Regions from separate parts of the Homo sapiens genome. Here all the other regions are linked to region 2. The links come from fine-mapping of genetic effects on gene expression. A gene starts in region 2. Each other region holds a variant in brackets. All regions are shown on one strand. Distances are between the middles of the regions. Region 1 overlaps PTPRA (protein tyrosine phosphatase receptor type A). Region 2 holds the start of PCED1A (PC-esterase domain containing 1A). Region 3 overlaps PTPRA (protein tyrosine phosphatase receptor type A).

Region 1 (6,614 bases), 190 kb after region 2:
AGGGATTGCCTCATTGCTGACTACATAAAATAAAGCAGTAGAATTTGAGAAATTATACAAACAAGAAACTTACAGTCTAATATTCAGTAATAAGGAAATCTTTTAAAGAAAAAAGCCCTCAGGTCTATTAAAAAGCAGAGCTGTCCGGAAACTCATACTAAAAAGGGACACTAGCAGTCCCCTAGGTCAACTTCCTCTCAGTATAGGAAACCTCCTAATATTGTTCCTGAGTCAGAATCATACAGCCTCTACTAAGCACATTCAATCTCAGGGATATCTCCCTCACCCCCCACATTATGGGGGGACCCAGTCTGTGTTCTGACAATGCTTATTCTTTTAAAAATTATTTCTGTTGAGGTTGCACATTGCAGCAAATGAGCGGTTCACTATGTCTGGGGTGTCACTTAGCAGGGATGAGAATCTAGAGAATGGGCCTGGAGAGAAGCTAGCAAGGCCTGGTGAGAAAATTCCTTCTAAGCCACAGTGAAGAGTTTGGTCTTCCTAAAGCAATTGAAGAGCCCTTGACAACATCCCATTTGTGTTTTTTAAAAAATCCCTCTGGCAGCAGTGAGAAGGACTCATTAGAAATGCGAAAGCTGTGGCAGTAATGCTGGTGGCCTGGACTCGGGTGGTGAGAGGGTGCTGTCCCAGAAAGGGTGAAGTGAGGAGGAATTAAGGATGGCACCCACTCATGACTCATTGAATTTATAGTCAAACATTTAAAATACAAAGTATGTTTTACATTAGTTGTCTCAAGTCACTAGTTGTTCCCCATCTGTACTTGTGTTAACTTTGGTACAAGGCTTTACACATATTTTCTCACCCTGATGTTTCATTACATCAGGATTTTTTTTTTTTTTTTGGTTTTGTTTGTTTGTTTGTTTGTTTGAGAGAGGGTCTCACTTTGTCACCCAGGCTGGAGTGCAGTGGCACGATCTTGGCTCACTGCAGCCTCAACCTCCCAGGTTCAAGTGATCCTCCCACATAGCCCTCCAAGTAGCTAGGACTAAAGGCACGTGCCACCATGCCCAGCTAGTTTTTGTATTTTTTTGTAGAGACAGGGTTTCACCATGTTGCCCAGGCTGGTCTTGAACTCCTGGGCTCAATTGATCCACCCACCTGGTTGACCCAAAGTGCTAGGATTACAGGTTTGAACCACCTTGCCCGGCATTTTTTTCAATTTTGATCAGTCATTTAACTCATTAGCTATTCTTCCTAGACTTGTATCATGTACCTAATCAACAGACATACTTTGTAGGTCTTCATCATCTTTTTTTTTTTTTTTTTTGAGACGGAGTCTCTGTCACCCAGGCTGGAGTGCAGTGGCACAATATGGGCTCATTGCAACCTCTGCCTCCCAGGTTCTGGCAATTCTCCTGCCACAGCCTCCCTAGTAACTGGGATTAAAGACACCCACCATCATGCCTGGCTAATTTTTGTAGGCACGGGGTTTCACCATGTTGGCCAGGCTTGTCTCAAACTCCTGACCTCAGGTTATCTGCCTGACTCAGCCTCCCAAAGTGCTGGGATTACAGGCGTGAGCCACTGCGCCCAGTGTCTTCATCATCATTAATAACAATACTGATGAGGTGGGAGGTTCGGTTAAGGTGCTTGGCTTTGCACTCAAGGAAGCACACACCTGAGTAACAAAAGCTGTTTAGGAAATGAGCCACTGTGTTCTCAGGAGCTAGGTGCCTGTTCCTGCCGTCTCTGATCAGTCGTGATGGAACCTGCAGATCAGACCAGGGCCCTACCTGTGGTTCCTTCTGCACCCCTGCCCTTCAGATCTGTGATGGGCAGGACCAAAGAGCAGGCCGAAGAGCTGGAACCACGAGCACAAGGACCATCTCGGCCCACTGCCCTGTGATAAAATGTGGCCCAGTGAACATCTCCGCCTCTGTCCAGTCAGATGCAGGCTCTTCCATCCTTGAAAAGGACCTAGTGAGAGTAAAGGGCAGGGGGCAGGAAGCATTTCATGTGTGTGGCGGTGGGGAGAAGAGTCGTGCGCACACAAATTCTGCTGCCTGTTGAGTGAGGCCTCTCCCTCTGCCTTCCACTGTAGCTTATGCTCTGTCTTCCTAGGCCAGTGAAGCAGACAGTAGTGCTTGCCCTCAAAAGCTTCTGAGTGGATTGGAACAGGATGTTAGTGATGTTCTTTACAAGGCCTCACTGGCCCCCAAGTTCACTTTCTGTTCCATTCATGTTGTCAAGTGTAGCTCCCAGAAGTAATTAACGCACTAAGCCTAAATGATGCAATGAAAGGTGCCTACACTTATACAGTGACACTACCATCCTCACCTACAATATTAAGTTCCCAGAGAAAAAAATTCGATCCCATAATATAAATTCTGTACTTACAAATTAAAATCTCGAAGGAATTAAAAATTTTTAATTATCTCCCTCTGCTTTTTTTTTTTTTTTTTTTTTTTTTTTGAGATGGAGTCTCACTCTGTCCACCAGACTGGAGTGCAGTGGCACAATCTCAGCTCGCTGCAACCTCCACCTCCAGGGTTCAAGTGATTCTCCCACCTCAGCCTCCCGAGTAGCTGGGATTACAGGCATGCACTACCATGCCCAGCTAATTTCCATAGTAGAGACAGGGTTTCGTCATGTTGGCCATGCTGGTCTCAAACTCCTGACCCCAAGTGATCCGCCCGCCTTAGCCTCCCAGAGTGCTAAGATTACAGGCATGAGCCATTGCGCCTGGCCTCCTTCTGCTCTATTTTAATCAAAAGGGTCCACCAGGATGCCTGGGTTCCCTCAGCAGCTGCAGCTTGGACCATCATCAGCCTGGGCAGACAGAGCAGTGCCAGGAACTCCCATGCTGGGTCAACCCTAGGCCTAGCCCAACCCTAGGCCTCATCCTGCTTCTCTAAAGCATAGTGAAACCTGATAGCATTAGTCTTCACAAAGCTGTGTGTCCCCATCACCATGTCCGCCTTAGACCTCATAAGAGACATAAGACATAAGAGACTTCATGCTATCTGGTGGAAAGACAAAGTAGGAGAAAAGACAGAAAACCTTCCCTGTTTCACTTCTTTAAGATGCTATTATCTAGAGGCCGTAACGTGAACACACAAATCTGAGATGAAACTCCAGTCCCCAGCTTTTCTTCTACTGGTCTTGAATCCCCATTCCCCATCTTCTGTCCCTCACCCACTGATGACTTTAACACCTGGCTTACTGCTCCTTTTGAGCCCCTGTTCCTGACTCTGCTTTTGGAGGCATCAGTCACCATGTGGATGATCCATCTATCCTCAATCTTTCTATTCCTCAGCTTCCTCAGCCACCTGATCCCATGGTCAAGTCACCATCTGCCCTGTATCTGCACTGCCCTTGGAATCTCAACAAGGCATCCGCCCTGTTTACTGCCTCCTTCCTCCCACCTCAGTATTCTCTTTTATTCCAGTCATTTTTGTCTTCATCAAGTCCTTAGAGTTATTGATGCCTCCACTTTCTCAACATCAGTCACACCGAACATGTCCTCACCTTCCTCCTTACT[C/CTGTT]TGTGTGTTTTTGAGTTCTGTTTTTGAGCGTTTGAGTTTTCTGATTTGAGTTTTTGTGGTATGTCATTATTACCTTTCCTTATTCCCTCATGCTTTCTTACTTTCATAGCAAACTCTCTAGTAAAACCCAGTTATATGCCTCTATCTGATATAGCAAACATCACTGGGCAAAAACACAAAACAGTGCCAAATGCTCTCACACTGAACTCATGACCACAAATCTCATAGAGGTAATTGGTGCCACCTAGCAATGCTATTGCTCTTTCTTTTCTTCCTGAAACCTCCAGCATCTGCTCTTGCCTGTCCCATCATACTCACACCTTAGCTTGTGACCTGGCCTCATTCTTCTCCAAGAAATCAGACAAGAACACTGTCATCCTCCCACCCCCAAACAACCAGCCTCTTCAAATCTGTACCAACTCTATTCTCTCTTGTTACAGTGGAAAAGGGTTTCTGCATCTCTCAATCCACCTGTCCACTGTGCTCTTGGCCCCATTCCGTCCTGCCTGCTCAGGGATGTTGCTGCTATAACCATCTTCTCTCCCACCTCCATCAGCAGTTCCCCTCTTTAACCACTACTCTCATCAGCCTATACATGTTACATTTCCTATCTTTTAAAAACAAAAAATCTGCTAATCTCACTTTCCCTTCCACCTACTATCCTATTTCTCTGCACCCCTTCCCAGCAAAACTCCTTTAAAGAGTTGGCTTTCGGCCGGGCGCGGTGGCTCACGCCTGTAATCCCAGCACTTTGGGAGGCCAAGGTGGGCGGATCACAAAGTCAGGAGATCGAGACCAGCCTGGCCAACATGGCAAAACCCCATCTCTACTAAAAATACAAAAATTAGCTGGGCGCGATGGTGCATGCCTGTGATCCCAGCTACTCGGGAGGCTGAGGCAGGAGAATCGTTTGAACCAGGGAGCTGAAGGTTGCAATGAGCCAAGATCGCGCCACTGCATTCCAGCCTGGTGGCAGAGTGAGACTCCATCTCAAAAAAAAAAAAAAAAGAGTTGGCTTTCTCCCTGCAAGTTCTCTGTTCGCTCTGTTCCTTCCAGGCTTGGCCCCACTGGGACTGCTTTAGTCAAGATCACCAGTGACTGTCCTCTTGCCAAATCCAAAGGTCATTTCTCTTTTCTGATTTTTTTTTTTTTGTCCTTACAGCAGCATTTGAAAGAGTCAGTACCTCCCTCCTCTTCCTCAGAACACTTACTTCCGTAGCATCACCCCACTCACTAACCTGGCAGCTCCTTTGTTATTTCTTTGTGACCTCCTCCTCTAAAACATTGGAGTATACTAGACTCGGGCGCTAGCCCACTCTGTTTTCTTTTGACACACTAGCCCTTCAGGATCTCAGCCAGTCCTATGGCTTTAAGTACAACCCATATGCCAGGGATCCTCAATCTGCGTCTCTAGGCCAGTCACCTGTCCCCCTTCCCAATGTGGGCTCCTGATTTCCTCCTTCCCCCGACACCAGTCCACCCCACTCTTAGCCATCTAAATAAATAGTACCACCTTCTGCCCAGTTGCTCATGTCTAAAATCCGGGAGTTACCTTCCTTCCTCCCCTCTCCTCACCCCTCACATCCAGTCTGCCACTGAGTCCTGATACAGGCAGAGCCTCCCCACTTTTCTCCAGCGTAACTGCTGTCATCTGAACAAGCCCTCGTCTCTCACTGCTTGCCCGTGGGACTGTGGGCATGACTCATATGCGCAGCCTCGTCTGCAGTGGCCTGGCAACTGGTCCTCCTGCTCTCATCCTAACCCACTTTTAGTTTTTCAAATGGCAGCTGCTGGTCCTTTTGAAAATATAAATCATTGTCACTCCTTGTCTTACAAATCCTGTTTGAGGCCAGGTGCGGCAGCTCACGCCTGTAATCCCAGCACTTTGGGAGGCCGAGGCGGGTGGATCACCTGAGGTCGGGAGTTCGAGACCAGCCTGACCAACATGGAGAAACCCCGTCTCTACTAAAAATACAAAATTAGCGGGCATGGTGATGCATGCCTGTAATCTCAGCTACTGGGGAGGCTGAGGCAGGAGAATCACTTGAACCCGGGAGCCGGAGGTTGCAGTGAGCCAAGATCGCGCCATTGCACTCCAGCGTGGGCAATAAGAGTGAAGCTCCATCTCAAAAAAAAAAAAAAAAAAAATCCTCTTTGGTCTTCCAGAGATCTTGAGAGAAAATCCGCCCATGTATACAAAATTTAGAGACTTTTGATCAGATGTGGTGGCTCACGCCTGTGTAATCCTACCACTTTGGGAGGCTGAGGCAGGTGGATCACCTGAGGTCAAGAGTTTGAGACCAGCCTGGCCGACATGGTGAAACCCTGTCTCTACTAAAAATACAAAAATTAGCTAGGCATGGTGGCGCACACTTGTAGTCCCAGCTACTTGGGAGTCTGGGGTGGGAGAATCACTTGAAACTGGGAGGCGGAGGCTGCAGTAAGTCAAGATCATGCCACTGCACTCCAGCCTGGGCGACAGAGCAAGACTCTCTCAAAAAAGAAAAAAAAAATGAGACTCTTAGTGTTGATACCTAGTCCCTAGACTTGATATGTATTTCTGTCTGAGAGATCATGCTCAATTCCTCCAGCACACACACACTGTGGCTCACACCCATGGGGACCTTATGGTTCTGATGGTTTTAAAGGCCCAGTCTTCATCCCAGCTGAGACACTGTGTAAAGCAGTGTTGAGAAGGCACTGTGGTAGCAAAATCCATTCCACCCACCAGTGCCATAAAAACTAATATAATGCCTGATCGAGGTGAGCCTTAATGAGAATTTTTTTTTTTTTTTGGCTGTTCTGGTTGAAGAGAGGCCCAGGGCACCGATCCCTGAGGCATCCCCAGGGCTTCTAGAGAACATGGGTGGAAAAGCACTAGTCCAGGGCATGTTCTTGATTCAACACTTTAATAATCATGATTTTATTTGGACTGTGAGACTATTCACAATTTCTTTTTCTACTTAATTTTTTTCCAAATCTTTCAATGACATTATATGTATGGTTGAGAATTTTTCAATTGCCAGTAGTGAAGAATCTCAGATCTTACCCCCAAATTCTCTAAAGAAATGGGCAGCATAACTGTGTGATGTTATATTTATGTATTTATGCC
Region 2 (6,547 bases):
AAGCGGGTAGGGAAAAGGCATGGGAGGAGGCAAAGAAGAAGGTGGGGGTGGGAGCAAGGCCAGGTGCTCCCCGAAGTCTGGGGTCTGCCTATGGCTTCCCTGGAATGGATGATTCATCTCTGCCCAGTCCTCAATCCACGGGTCTAGGAATGGGATGGTTGTTTTAGGTAGGCTTGGGAGCCAGGCTGCCCTGAACTCTGGCCATCCACACTTCTAAAGCTCTATTCCTTCCTCTTGGAGAGCAGAGCCACCAGGCTGGAGCATCCTTGCCCTCTACCCAGTTTTCCTCATTCCCTCTCATTTCAGGCCAAGCCCAAAGTGTGTTCCTTCTCTCTTACCTCTCAGACTTACCTTTGTTCTAACCTACACTTCCCTCCAGAGCCTTCTTTGTTTGCCCAGGTCTTGTATCTAGCTTTTTCCTCGCCCACCTCCTCCCCATAGACCAGTAAATAAGCCAAACATAAAGATCCTGTTATTCCCTTCCCCAACAACTTCCTTTTACCATCCAAACTTCCAAAAGGAATGTTTTGCCCAATTTCCACTTCCTCCTCAATTGCTCACTCCCTCCTTTAATCCAAACCCATGCCCTCAACACTTTTCCTACTAAATGTAACCACTTGCTAACAAATTCCCTTCTTCTCAACAGTCATGTGACACTGCCAGCAGCCTCAGTCCTTCCTAAAAGTGCCCCTGCCCTCATCTCCTTTTGTTTCCGCCATAGCCCCTCTTTCCTGCCAATCCAAAGCATGAGCATCGTTCTGTCTCCCTCACAGCTGCCACTGTGCCCTCAGTTTTAATCTCTCTGCTGGGTACCAATGACTGCAAATCTACTCTGTATTTCCAAAGAACCTCAAATCAATCTGCTGTGACCAAACTCACCAACTCATCCTTCCACCCCAAATCAACTCTCCCTTTTCATGGCCCTAACTTCTGTAGCTCCAAATTGGATTTCAAAGGCCTAAGCCATCAAAACTAGCCTTACAACCTTCAGGGCATCCCATCATTTGCTGGGGATCAATTATTACATCTAAACAAGAAAATGGGGATGTTTAACCAAAATCTGTATTCACCTCCCTGATGCTCCAACTCCTGGCTACCAAGTGTTACAGGTCTGTCTCTATGATATTCCTGGACTCTCTGTGCCCCCACATCCTCTTGTGCTGCCATAATCGGCCTTCTAACATGACTCGTGCCTCCCATTCAACAAATACAATTCTGTTGATACTGTGTACAGGGAAATTGTGCTAGACACTGGGGCTGAAAGGGGTGAGTCGTCAACAAGTGCAGCAGGAAACTTGCCCTTTAAGGACACGATGCAGGGGAGAAGCAGCCATGGAGACAATCAGCCATGGTGCCCTCTTTGTGTGCATGCAGGGACTAGGGTGTTGACATGGAAACAGAGGTTCTGCAGCAGAGTGTTACAGTTGAGATGTGATGGGGAGCAGTGCCTCAAAACAAGGGGGAGTGGGGCCCTCAGAAGCCTCCACCAAAGGCCCAGAGATGGGGCCCGAGGAGAGCTACACCAAGCTGCACCAGTCACAGTGGGACTCTGAGGCTGAACTAAGAAGCCTATGGAACACTGTCCATTGAGCCCAAGTCCATAAGGCTGGCCTTCCCGATGCAACATCCCTGTTCCACACCCTGCCAGTTGACTGTACCCCCACCCCCCAGCTGTGGGCTTCTTTGCTTCTGCCACACTGCCTGGATGGCCCTTCCTCCCTGTCTTTCCACTCCTCACACCCATGCCCCATTTCTTTCCTGTTAATCTGTTGGGTAGGACCCTTGCAACATGCTGCCTTATGTGGTCAATACTTGTACAAGCTCCTTCAAGCACACAGAAATGACTACACAGCCAGACTGTAGAAAACTGGAACTTGGACAAGAATATTGCTCCGATGATCTAACCCTCCTCAGGGGTTGAGGAAGGTGCATGCAGAAGCCACAGGAGTCCTTCAAGGGACCTCTACTTCCCTTGAGTGGCTGTGTCCCATTCTGTTTCTGAGCCCTGTCCTCTGAGGGCCCCAGTGCATCACTACCCCCCCACTTATGGTAGGGCTCACCAGGGGGATAGCCACGCTTGGGCAGCTCCACGCCCCAGGCGTCAGCCACATGGGTCAGAAGCAGGTGTGAGAGGTGGCGGTGTGCATGCTGGTCCCAGTGGACACCATCCCGATGACGGTGCTGTACTGCATGCCGGAAGTGAAAGTGGAGGTCTAGGACATCAAAGCAGTGGTCCCCGGCCAGCGTAGCACTGTAGAAGTTCCCTTCAACCACATCCCGCCGCAGGGAGCCTGCCAGGGGCTGGAGCTAAGTGAGAAAGTGCAGCCTCTAAGAGCCACAGAACGCAGCAGGGTCTGAAAGCAGGGTGTCCTATCTACCAGTCTGCTATCCCATCTCTTGTCCTGATGGGCCTCAGTCACTTGCCTCTGGCAGGAGGAAACCCCCAGTGATACGTTCCCCGAGGGGCATCGCCATGTTCCACACCAGCAGGCAGGAGTCTGGCAATACTTGGTCCATGCGCACAAACACCCGCTCCAGGTTCTCCCGGTAGCTCTCCATTGAGCAGCGACCATATCTGTTGGATAACACACAGGGTGGGCAAGAGCACAAGGGTGGACTGCCTCAGCCGTACTTCCAGCCCCAACCAGTATTCCCCTTTCCCTCGCCCCAACCTGGAGAGATCCCAGAGGCAGGAGTTGATGATCACCAGGTCCGGGGCAGGTCCATATGTCAGCTCTTCCAGAACATCCTCAAGGTACTCGGAGTAAACACGAGTGAGGAAGTAGAAGCGCACAAGGTGGTGGCCAGAGCCCGAGCAGAACTGGCGGACCTCACGATACTGTGTCCCGTTGTGCAGCTCGCCCAGCTGGCCCCCAGCCACCAGCTGGTCCTGTTCAAAGCTCAGCTCCCCCTACCCACCCCCCCCACCCTACTGGTCAGACCCATGCCAGGGAGGAGAACCCTGCCAGGCCAGGGTCTGTGCCCACCCACCACTGACATGGCCACCAAGCTTCCCTCACCTTGGCTTTCAGCTGGGCAGCTGTGAGCAGTGAGTCTTTCTGGAGCAAGAGCACCAGGTCCTTGTACACAGCCCTCTGAACTGGGAGGAGACAGAGATCCCAAGGCTGAGGCAGACCTCAGCCTGCCCCAGCTCCTTCCAAGTCCAGGACCCCATTTTCCCAGGGCTGAGGTGCCCGACACCAGCTCTGTGGTTGACTTAGACGCAGGAGAAAAGATGAGGTTAAAAAGTCCTGGCATTGCCTCTGTTCTGTGTGCCTCCTGGCCAGCAGTATACAGTGACCCAAGATCACCTGGCAGAAATTAAGTCGGCCAAGTCACCCAGGAGACACACTACACAATGCAACGCTTTCGTGATGGAAATTATGGGGAGCTGTCAGGGCGAGAAATGCTGAGCAAGGATGGGCTAAAAAGTGCACAGGTTATTACACCTGTCAGGACTCCTGTGGAAGATGTGTGGGACATAAAAAGAGAAAACCTACTGGACGGAACAGACCAGAAGACAGACAAGAGATGTGAGATGGAAACAAATGGTCCAGACACACTGAACGGGCTGCAAGGTGTGGGACTGGAAGCGTCACCCTAGAAGAGGCACTCACTGGAGTCCCCCAAGATGACCACGAACTTGTTGTGTAGCAGCTGCTGGACTTCCGAGGCCTGGAAGTGGACCATGTCGCTTCGCAGCGGGCGGCGCGGCTCCTCGCTCGACAGACAGAAGACCATGCCGCCACCAGCAACGACAGGCTGCAGGGAGAGGCCACTAAGCAGCGCGATGGTGGGGACTCTGGGCAGGTCAGCCTCAGGGCTAGCCCCTCCGGGGCTGCTCAATGCTAAAGGGAGGAGGTGACGGCAGCAGAGCCATGGTGGCGCCAGCCTTGGTCACACTTGGTACCAGAGGCAGGGGGTCGTCCAGCCAGCAGGCCTCCAGGGCACTGGGGAGCTTCCCGCGCGGCGCCGCCCTGCGCCTCGCCACGTGCCCGCCGCCGTCCCGCGCATGCGCGCACCCGCTCGCGCCAATTACCAAGTCCCGGGGCTCCGCGGTGTTCACCCGCGACCCGGGTATGCCTGCGCACCGCGCGCCTGGCCCGCAGCGGGCTCCTAGCCAAGCCTCATGTTCCCGCGCCCCAGTCGGCCAGTCGGTTCTGCAAAGCTCCCGCCCCGCAGAGACCGTGGGTCCAGGTTAGCCGTCGGTGCACAGCCCAGCGCCCAGCGCTCTCCATGCGAGCGTCGCTGTGGCCCCGACGGCGCCTCAGGCCTCGGCGCCTCGGGCTGCGACGCTCACAGCTTCCACTTCCGTTCACCCATGTCCCGCCCTGAGCGACCCCCAGTGCCCGAAGGGAAAGCAAGGCGATGGAGGTGGCCGCCACAGGGCGCAGGAGCCAGGGCTGGGCCCACTTGGCGGGCGCGAAGCCCAGGTACGGGCTGGGGTCTCGGGGCGGCAGCCAAGTGAGGCTGCCCACAGTGGTGATGGCCGCGGCGGCGGCCTCGCCACGTGACCCGGACGGGCGGAAGCGGAAGTGCCGGCCTGGAGCCCGCTCTAGGTGGGTGTCCCCTCGGTGCTTCCCAGCTGCCGTCTGCACCAGCCATGGACTGCTACACGGCGAACTGGAACCCACTCGGGGACTCTGCCTTTTACCGGTGAGCTGCCCCGCCCTCCCGCCCACGGCCTGGCTTACCCTGCTCGCCCGCCGGCTGGAGTCTCCCGGCGGCGTTCGCCCCTGTCACTACTGGCGCTGGGGTCCGCCCCGCGCCGGCTCTCCCCGAGCGTCTGCCACTTAGCGCACAGCCGCCTTTGGGCAGGGAGCCGGGCCTTCCCCTGCTCCAGAAAAGGAAACTGAGGCAAGCACAGTGGTCACCCCGAAGCCCAGGTCTGTTAGCCTCCGGAAAGATGCTCAGATCTCGCTGAGGGAGGCAGCTCGCGGGTGACAGCGAGTGCCCAGTCTCCTGCCGGAAAGTGCTGCTGAAGTCAGACCACAGGGGCGCTCCGAGGGGGGCGGGATCGCACGGCGGGCGGGGTAACAGTGCTGACCAAGGCTGGGAAAAGGGGGCGAGTCGTCCGTGAATCCCGGAACAGCGGAAGTGGGAACCCCTGGGTTAGGGCAGCCCGCCCATGGGAGTTGTAGAGTCCTAAACCACGGATTTTTCTAAAGTGTAAACCCGTTACATCGTTACCCAGATTAGGATTTTCCCATAGCTTCCCTAATAGGAAAAACTACGAACTTCTCGTGGAACGTCTATCTGTAAGGCAGCCCGTTTGTCTCTCCAACCTCATCTACCGCTCTCCTACCCAAATCTTGCGTTCCAGCTGCGCAGAATTACAAGGCCCTAACCAGTCTGCAGTTTCTGTGGATACTGCCATTTCTCTCTTTATCTCACTGAAGAATTTTGCGCATCCTTCAGGACTTAGTAGTTCAAGGGTTCTTTCTGGAACTGTGCCTGATTCTCCCCCAATAGAATCCTGTGGGCCTCACTGGGCCCAGTGCTAGGGTCTTTTAGGTATGGTCTATTTGTATATTTAGGCGACATTTGTATAGGTTTCTTCTGCTAAACCAGGCTCCTTCAGGGCTGAAAGCATTTTTTTTTTTTTTGACAGAGTCTTCCTCTGTTGCCCAGGCTGGAGTGCAGGGGCACTCGGCTCACTGCAACCTCCGCCTCCCGGGTTCAAGGGATTCTCCTGCCTCAGCCTCCCGAGTGGCTGAGACTGCAGGCCCCTGTCACCACGCCCGGCTAATTTTTGTATTTTTTGCTAGAGGTGAGGTTTCACCATGGTGGCCAGGCTGGTCTTGAACTTCTGACCTTAAGCAATCTATCCACCTTGGCCTCCCAAAGTACTGGGATTACAGGCGTGAACCACTGAGCCCGGCCAAAAGCATGTTTCTTGCTTCTCTTTATCACCAGTGCATATTTAGAACAGTGCTTGCTATGTAATAATTGCCCATTAAAGTTTTTTAAAAATATTTTACTGGGCCGAGCTTTGTGGCATGTTCCTATAGTCCCAGGTACTGGAGAGGCTGAGTTAGGAGGATCACTGGAGCCCAGAAGTTTGAGGGTGTAGGGACCGATGTTAGAACCTGTGAATAACCACTGCACTCCAGCCTGGGCAACATAGCATACTCCCTCTGAAAAATTAAAAATATTATTTTAGGCCAGGCGCAGTGGCTCATGCCTGTAATCCCAGCACTTTGGGAGGCCAAGGTGGGTGAATCACCTGAGGCCAGGAGTTTGAGACCAGCCTAACCAACATGGTCAAACCCTGTCTCTACAAAAATTAGCCAGGCATAATGGCAGGTGCTTGTAATCCCAGCTACTTGGGAGGCTGAGGCAGGAGAATCGCTTGAACCTGGGAGGCGGAGGTTGCAGTGAGCCAAGATAGCGTCATTGCATTCTAGTCCAGGCAACAGAGTGAGACTCCGTCTATATATAGATATATCTATCTATATCTATCTATAGATAGATAGATATAGATAGATATATAGATGTATCTATATATATATAGATACATCTAGATGTATCTATATATAGATAGACA
Region 3 (6,614 bases), 56 kb after region 2:
GAGGGCCAACTGTATGTAATTTACTGAAGCATGGATTCACATTATAGATGGTCCCTGATTTATGATGGTTCAACTTATGATTTTTATACTATGATGGTGGGAAAGCTGGTGTGATATACGTATTCAGTAGAAATTGTACTTCCAATTTTGAAATTTGATCTTTTCCCAGGCTAGTGATATGCAGTGTGACAATTTCTCATGGTGCTGGGCAGAAGCATTGACCCACACCTCCCAGTCAGCCATGTGATCAGGAGGGTAAATGAGTATACTCCATGGTGTACTGTGTTGCCAGGTGATTCTGCTCAACTGTATGCTAATGTGAGTGTTCTGAACACATTTAAGGTAGGCTAGGCTAACTATGGCATTCGGTAGGTAAAGTGTGTTAAATGCATTTCCTACTTAAACGATATTTTCAGTTTATGGTGGGTATATTGGAATATAGCCCCATTGTAGGGCAAGGAGCATCTTTATTTACCCAGTTGAGTTTAGTGGCAGCAGAACTAAGTTCGGTTTAGCTGTTCAGTGAGCCAAGCCTCACTTAGCATCTAATTCTGTCTTTATTTTCTGCTTTAGATAGGCCACAGCTCTCCTGAAGGGATTAAGACTTTCTGTGTGAAAAATGGTATTCAGAAGGAAGCCAGCATTAATTCTGTTTTTATACATTTATGAAGATTTGAAGGAATTTCACTGTCAATTCTGTCTTAATTGTATTCTGTATAATAAATCATAATGGTATCCAACGGCTCTTGAAAGGTTTGGTTTTTGTGAACATTTCTTTGAATGTCAAAGTTGTATTAGTTTGTTTCTCAATTAAACTGGGTGCTCTTTGAGGGCAGGGATTTATGGGACTTGTTTGTTTTGCAGTTTTATATCTCCAGCTGCTAATGCAGTGCCTGGTTTGTAGTAGGAATGAGAGATTTACTCCAATAGAACCATACTAAAGATCTTACACTTATGGATTACAGTTGATAGCTTTGTAGAGTGAACTGGTATTCCCTTTAAATGAGACGACATGACCTGAGTATAAAGTATAATCAACTACATGACTCCAGCAAGAATACCATGTGTCCCTCAGATAGCATAGCTGGCAGATGGAGTTATGCACATCAACTGGACATTTAAGACAGCTGGAGATTTCTTACATTTAGATGACAGTTTAGATTAGAAATATTTAATCTTAGCTGTACTTAATATATTATGTAGCTATATGATACATCATGTATATATGGTATATCATATATATCATATATTTAATCACATTTAATCCTTAGCTATATTTTCATCCCCAAAATGGTATATGGATCTGTTTTTATTGTCAGCTGGTTATTTATTGTTGCTTATCCATGGCTCATGAAAATCTTCATGTTACTTGGGAAATCTTTCACTCTGCCTTTTGAAGGACAGCCCAGAACCATTTCCTTCTTGGCACATGACCTTCTAACCCAGTGACCAAAGAGTATGTAAAAGCATGGTACACACTGCTTTTGAAGATTACGTGTGTCTATTCTAGATGTGTCTTATTTCTTGCAGATATATTGCCTACAAAGATTTTGATATATATATATACAGTAGACTATACTATATAATTAATATTTATACCAGATATTAAATATATAAGCATTCTACTAGAACTAAAGTTAAGAATTTGAAATAGTCTCATGTGAGTAATTAAAATAACAATAGCATCTTTTTCAAGAAAGTTTTTTTTAATATGGTGGAGATAATGACATGGAAAAAAGTAGTTAATTATTTTTGGTATTCCCGTATTTCATCAGTAGGTTGCCATAGAACATAATAGTTATATAATCAAACAGCAGAATAATTTTATATGAGGTTTATTGATACAGAAATGTTTGGTTCAGTGTTTGTCTTCCAGTTTTGCAGATTTTCTTTTCGATTTTAAAACTGGAGAATACATTAAAACCAGAAACTTTCAGCCTCTATAATGCCCTCAAAACTCAGCAGGTTTTGAAAATGCCTCTTCCTTCTCTTCTCCTCCCCATAATCCTGCTTATTTTTGGCATTAAGTGAGTCAGGGGTTCCAAACCCAAATACGTTTTTCAAGGCTATGTAGTCAGTGTGAATGAGAGAAGTAAATCTGTTGGGTCCTGTGCCACACTGGAGTTTCCAAGGCTGGTCTAAATGAGTTCAACTTCAGTTTTTTTGTGTTTTTTTAGAGATGGAGTCTTGCTGTGTTGCTTGAGCTGGTCTTGAACTCCCGGGCTCAAGTGATCTTCCAGCCTTGGCCTCCCAAGGTGCTAGAATTATAGGCATGAGCCACTGTGCTGGCCAATTTTTTTTTTTTTAGCCCACTGTGCTACCAGTTTGTGATCTTCACTTTAACTGTGAAAGGACTGTCAAAGATTGTACGTATAAGATTTAGTTTGAGAGCCAGGCCTGGTGGCTCATGCCTGTAATCCCAGCACTTTGGGAGGCTGAGGCGGGTGGATCACGAGGTCAGGAGATCAAGACCATCTTGGCTAACACGGTGAAACCCCGTCTCTACTAAAAATACAAATAAATTGGCCAGGCGTGGTGACGGGCGCCTGTAGTCCCAGCTACTCGGGAGGCTGAGACAGGAGAATGGGGTGAACCCGGGAGGCGGAGCTTGCAGTGAGCAGAGATCACGTCACTGCACTCCAGCCTGGGCGACAGAGCGAGACTCCTTCACCCAAAAAAAAAAAAAAAAAGTAGTTTGTCTTTCTCTTTGAAACTGAATTCATTAAACAAAAGCCTAAATAACTATACTATTACTTGTTATTTATTTATTTATTTATTTTAGACAGAGTCTTGATCTGTCAGCAGGCTGGAGTGCAGTGGTATAATCTTGGCTCACTGCAACCTCTGCCTCCCAGGTTCAAGTGATTCTCGTGCCTCAGCCTCCTGAGTAGTTGGGACTACAGGCATGCGTCACCACACCCAGCTAATTTTTGTATTTTTGGTAGAGATGGGGCTTCACCATATTGGCCAGGCTGGTCTAGAACTCCTGACCTCAAGTGATCCACCCACCTCAGCCTCCCAAAGTGCATAAGTGCTGGGATTACAGGTGTGAGCCACCACACCCAGCCTACTACATATTCTTTTAGACCCAGCTGAAATATCACGTAATTGCTGAAGGCTCCTGAACTCTTCCAGAT[C/G]AGGGATTGATTTTCCTCATTTTAAGATTGTCATGACAACTGTAGTATTGATAACTGTATTTTATTTTATTTTATTTTTTTTGAGACAGAGTGTTGCTCTGTCACCCAGGCTGGAGTGCAATGGCACGATCCTGGCTCACTGCAAACTTAGCCTCCTGCGTTCAAGCAATTCTCGTGCCTCAGCCTCCCAAGTAGCTGGGATTACAGATGTGCACCACCAAACACCTGGAATTAGTCTGGCTAATTTTTGAAGTTTTAGTGGAGATGGGGTTTCCCCATCTTGGCCAGGCTGTTCTCGAACTCCTGCCTCAAGTGATCCACCTGCCTTGGCCTTCCAAAGTGCTGGGATTACAGGTGTGAGCTACCGCACCCGGCTTATTAACCAATTTTTAATGTTCAGCACAACTTGATCATGATGTACAATGTCTTTTTTATGTTATGTGTTGATGGAGTCAAATTACCGATATTTTGGTTCAGTTTTTTCAATAAGAGATCAGGCTATTTTCTGATTTTCATTCTGTTTTTTTCTTTGATCTGTATGTATTTATAAGTGTCTCTTATTTTCAAATAGGTTTTTTCTAGTTATCTTTTTGTAACGGATTTATAGATTATACATTGTGGTTAAAGAATATGGTCTATAGGCTGGGCACGGTGGCTCACACCTGTAATCCCAGCACTTTGGGAGGCTGAGGCAGGGGGATCACTTGAGGTCATGAGTTCAAGACCAGCCTGGCCAACATGGTGAAACCCTGTCTCTACTAAAAATACAAAAAAAATTTAGCCGGGCATGGTGGTGGGTGCCTGTAATCCCAGCTACTAGGGAGGCTGAGGCAGGAGAATCGCTTGAACCCGGGAGGTGGAGGTTGCAGTGAGCCGAGATAGTGCCACTGCAATCCAGCCTGTGCAACAGAGGGAGACTCCGTCTCAAAAACAAAAACAAAAAACAAACGAAAACACACACACGCAAAGAATACGGCCTACATGCACTTTCAGTCCTTTGGAAATTGTTGGTATTTATTTGCCATTTGGCCTAGTTTACCCAGATTCCACAGGTTGTTAATGTTGTACAATTGCGTCTTCTCTTTCTCACTTCACCCATCTATGTAATTTTTCTGAATCATTTGAGAAATAAGTTGCAAACATAATGCTGTATTACCCATAAATCAGGGTGTGTTTCCTGAAAACAAGGATACTCTCCTATAAAATCAGGAAATAAATATTGATATAATACTGCCATCTGATTCACAGACCCTACTCAAATTTCACTGATCTTCCAATTATGTCTTTTATAGCAAAAACAAAACAACAGAAACCAACAAAATTCCCTCAAGAAAACAAAAGCAGAAAAACTTCCCTTTCCCCTTCACTTATTTCTGATTCAGGGACCATTCAGGATTATGCCTTGCGTTTAGTTGTCATGTCTGTTCAGTCTCTTTTAATCTAGAATAGTTCTCAGTCTTTCCTTATTTTCAGTGATCCTAATATTTTTGAAGAGTAGAGAATTATTTTGTAGCAAGTCCCACAATTTGGGTTAGTCTGATGTTTCCTTTTGAATAGATTTAGGTTATGCATTTGTGGCAGGAATACCAAAGACACGATATTATGTTCTTCTCACTGCATCGTATCAAGAGGTTCATGTCAATTTGTCCAATTACTGGTTATGTTTAATTTTACCACTTGGTTAAGATGTTGGCTGGCAAGTTTTTGTAAAATTAGTTTAGAGGTATTTCATACTTACTGGTTAGTAAGTAATAATGCATTTTGTGGGGTGATGCTTTGAGACTATATAAATAGCTTATTTCTCATCAAATTTTTGCTTGCTAGTTTTACCATCCATTGGTGATTTGTGCCTGAATCAGTTATTATAGTGGTTGCTAGATGGTAAATTTAAAAAATTTCATTATTTCTTCTGAATTCATCACTTGGCATTTCTTTTTTTTTTTTTTTTTTTTTGAGACGGAGTCTCGCTTTGTCACCCAGGCTGGAGTGCAATGGCGTGATCTCGTCTCACTGCAACCTCTGCCTCCCAGGTTCACGTGATTCTGCCACCTCACCCTCCCAAGTAGCTGGGGTTACAGGCACCCGCCATCATGCCCTACTAATTTTTGTATTTTTAGTTGAGATGGGGTTTCACCATGTTGGCTAGGCTGGTCTTGAACTCTTGACCTCAGATGATCTGCCCACCTTGGCCTCCCAAAGTGCTGGGATCACAGGCTTGAGCCACCGTGCCCAGCCAATCACTTGCTATTTCACTCTAAGGAAAAGCTTTCTCTCTCTGGTTTTTGTCTTTGTTTTTGTTTGTTTAAAAATCTTTTAAACATATGAGCACAGCCTCATTGATTCTTATTTTGTTCCTTTTTCATGTATTTTTTGATATTCAAATTGTCCCAAATTTGGCCAGTGGGAACCCTTTCAGGCTGGCTCCTGTGTCCTTTTTCCATGTCCTCATCATTCTTTTTTTTTTTTTTTTTTTTTTTGAGACAGAGTTTTGCTCTTGTTGCCCAGGCTGGGGTGCAATGGCGTGCTCTTTGTTCACTGCAACCTCCACCTCCCAGGTTCAAGCGATCCTCCTGCCTCAGCCACCCAAGTAGCTGGGATTGTAGGCACCTGCCACCACACCTGGCTAATTTTTCTATTTTTGTTTTTATTTTTTTTATTTTTTGAGACGGAGTCTTGCTCCGTCGCCCAGGCTGGAGTGCAGTGGCGCGATCTCGGCTCACTGCAAGCTCCGCCTCTCGGGTTCACGCCATTCTCCTGTCTCAGCCTCCAGGCATGCGCCACCATGCCCGGCTAATTTTTTTGTATTTTTAGTAGAGACGGGGTTTCACTGTGTTAGCCAGGATGGTCTCGATCTCCTGACCTTGTGATCCGCCCACCTCGGCCTCCCAAAGTGCTGGGATTACAGGCGTGAGCCACCGCGCCTGGCAATTTTTCTATTTTTAGTGGAGACAGGATTTCACCATGTTGGTCAGGCTGGTCTCGAACTCCTGACCTCAGGTGATCCGCCCGCCTTGGCTTCCCAAAGTGCTGAGATTATAGGCATGAGCCACCACGCCTGGTCATGTCCCCATCATTCTTTGATCACTTTTTTTCTTACTTTTTGGAATAATAAGATTTTCTGTGGGCTGGGCGAGGTGGCTCACGCCTATAATCCTAGCACTCTGGGAGGCCGAGGCTGGTGGGTCACCTGAGGTCTGGAGTTCGAGACCAGCCTGGCCAACATAGTGAAACCTTGTCTCTACTAAAAATATAAAAATTAGCCGGGCATAGTGGCACACACCTGTAGTCCCAGCTGCTAGGGAGGCTGAGGCAGGAGAATTGCTTGAACCCGGGAGGCGGAGGTTGCAGTGAGCTGAGATTGCGCCACTGCACTCCAGCCTGGATGACAGGGCGAGACTCCGTCTCAAAAAAAAAAAATTTCTGGGCTCATCTTTACTTTTGTTATCTCAGTCGTGGAATCAATAATTTTATCAGGGA

The links. PIP is the estimated chance that this variant, and not a neighbour inherited with it, causes the effect. A credible set is the group of variants that fine-mapping cannot tell apart.
Region 1: its variant is the best candidate, but not a certain one, in a credible set for the expression of PCED1A in whole blood (INTERVAL, PIP 0.82).
Region 3: its variant is the best candidate, but not a certain one, in a credible set for the expression of PCED1A in whole blood (TOPMed, PIP 0.76).

The regions. Positions count from the first base shown.
Region 1 is chr20:3,028,271-3,034,884 of GRCh38, forward strand. All of the region lies in intron 20 of PTPRA (protein tyrosine phosphatase receptor type A), which reads left to right. Among named protein-coding and RNA genes, the nearest start is that of GNRH2, 12 kb to the right of the region's middle. The variant C/CTGTT (reference allele first, on the strand shown) is at 3,503.
Region 2 is chr20:2,836,172-2,842,718 of GRCh38, forward strand. It overlaps PCED1A (PC-esterase domain containing 1A), which reads right to left and starts at 4,484. Exons shown (of 8, transcript NM_022760.6): 1 at 4,040-4,484; 2 at 3,618-3,762; 3 at 3,021-3,100; 4 at 2,673-2,911; 5 at 2,425-2,575; 6 at 2,061-2,307; 7 at 1-143. The coding sequence starts at 3,741. It overlaps VPS16 (VPS16 core subunit of CORVET and HOPS complexes), which reads left to right and starts at 4,574. Exons shown (of 24, transcript NM_022575.4): 1 at 4,574-4,656. The coding sequence starts at 4,604. RefSeq lists enhancers at 2,010-2,309, 3,786-4,317, 4,851-5,382.
Region 3 is chr20:2,892,316-2,898,929 of GRCh38, forward strand. The region is part of intron 1 of PTPRA (protein tyrosine phosphatase receptor type A); the gene reads left to right. Among named protein-coding and RNA genes, the nearest start is that of PTPRA, 22 kb to the left of the region's middle. The variant C/G (reference allele first, on the strand shown) is at 3,138.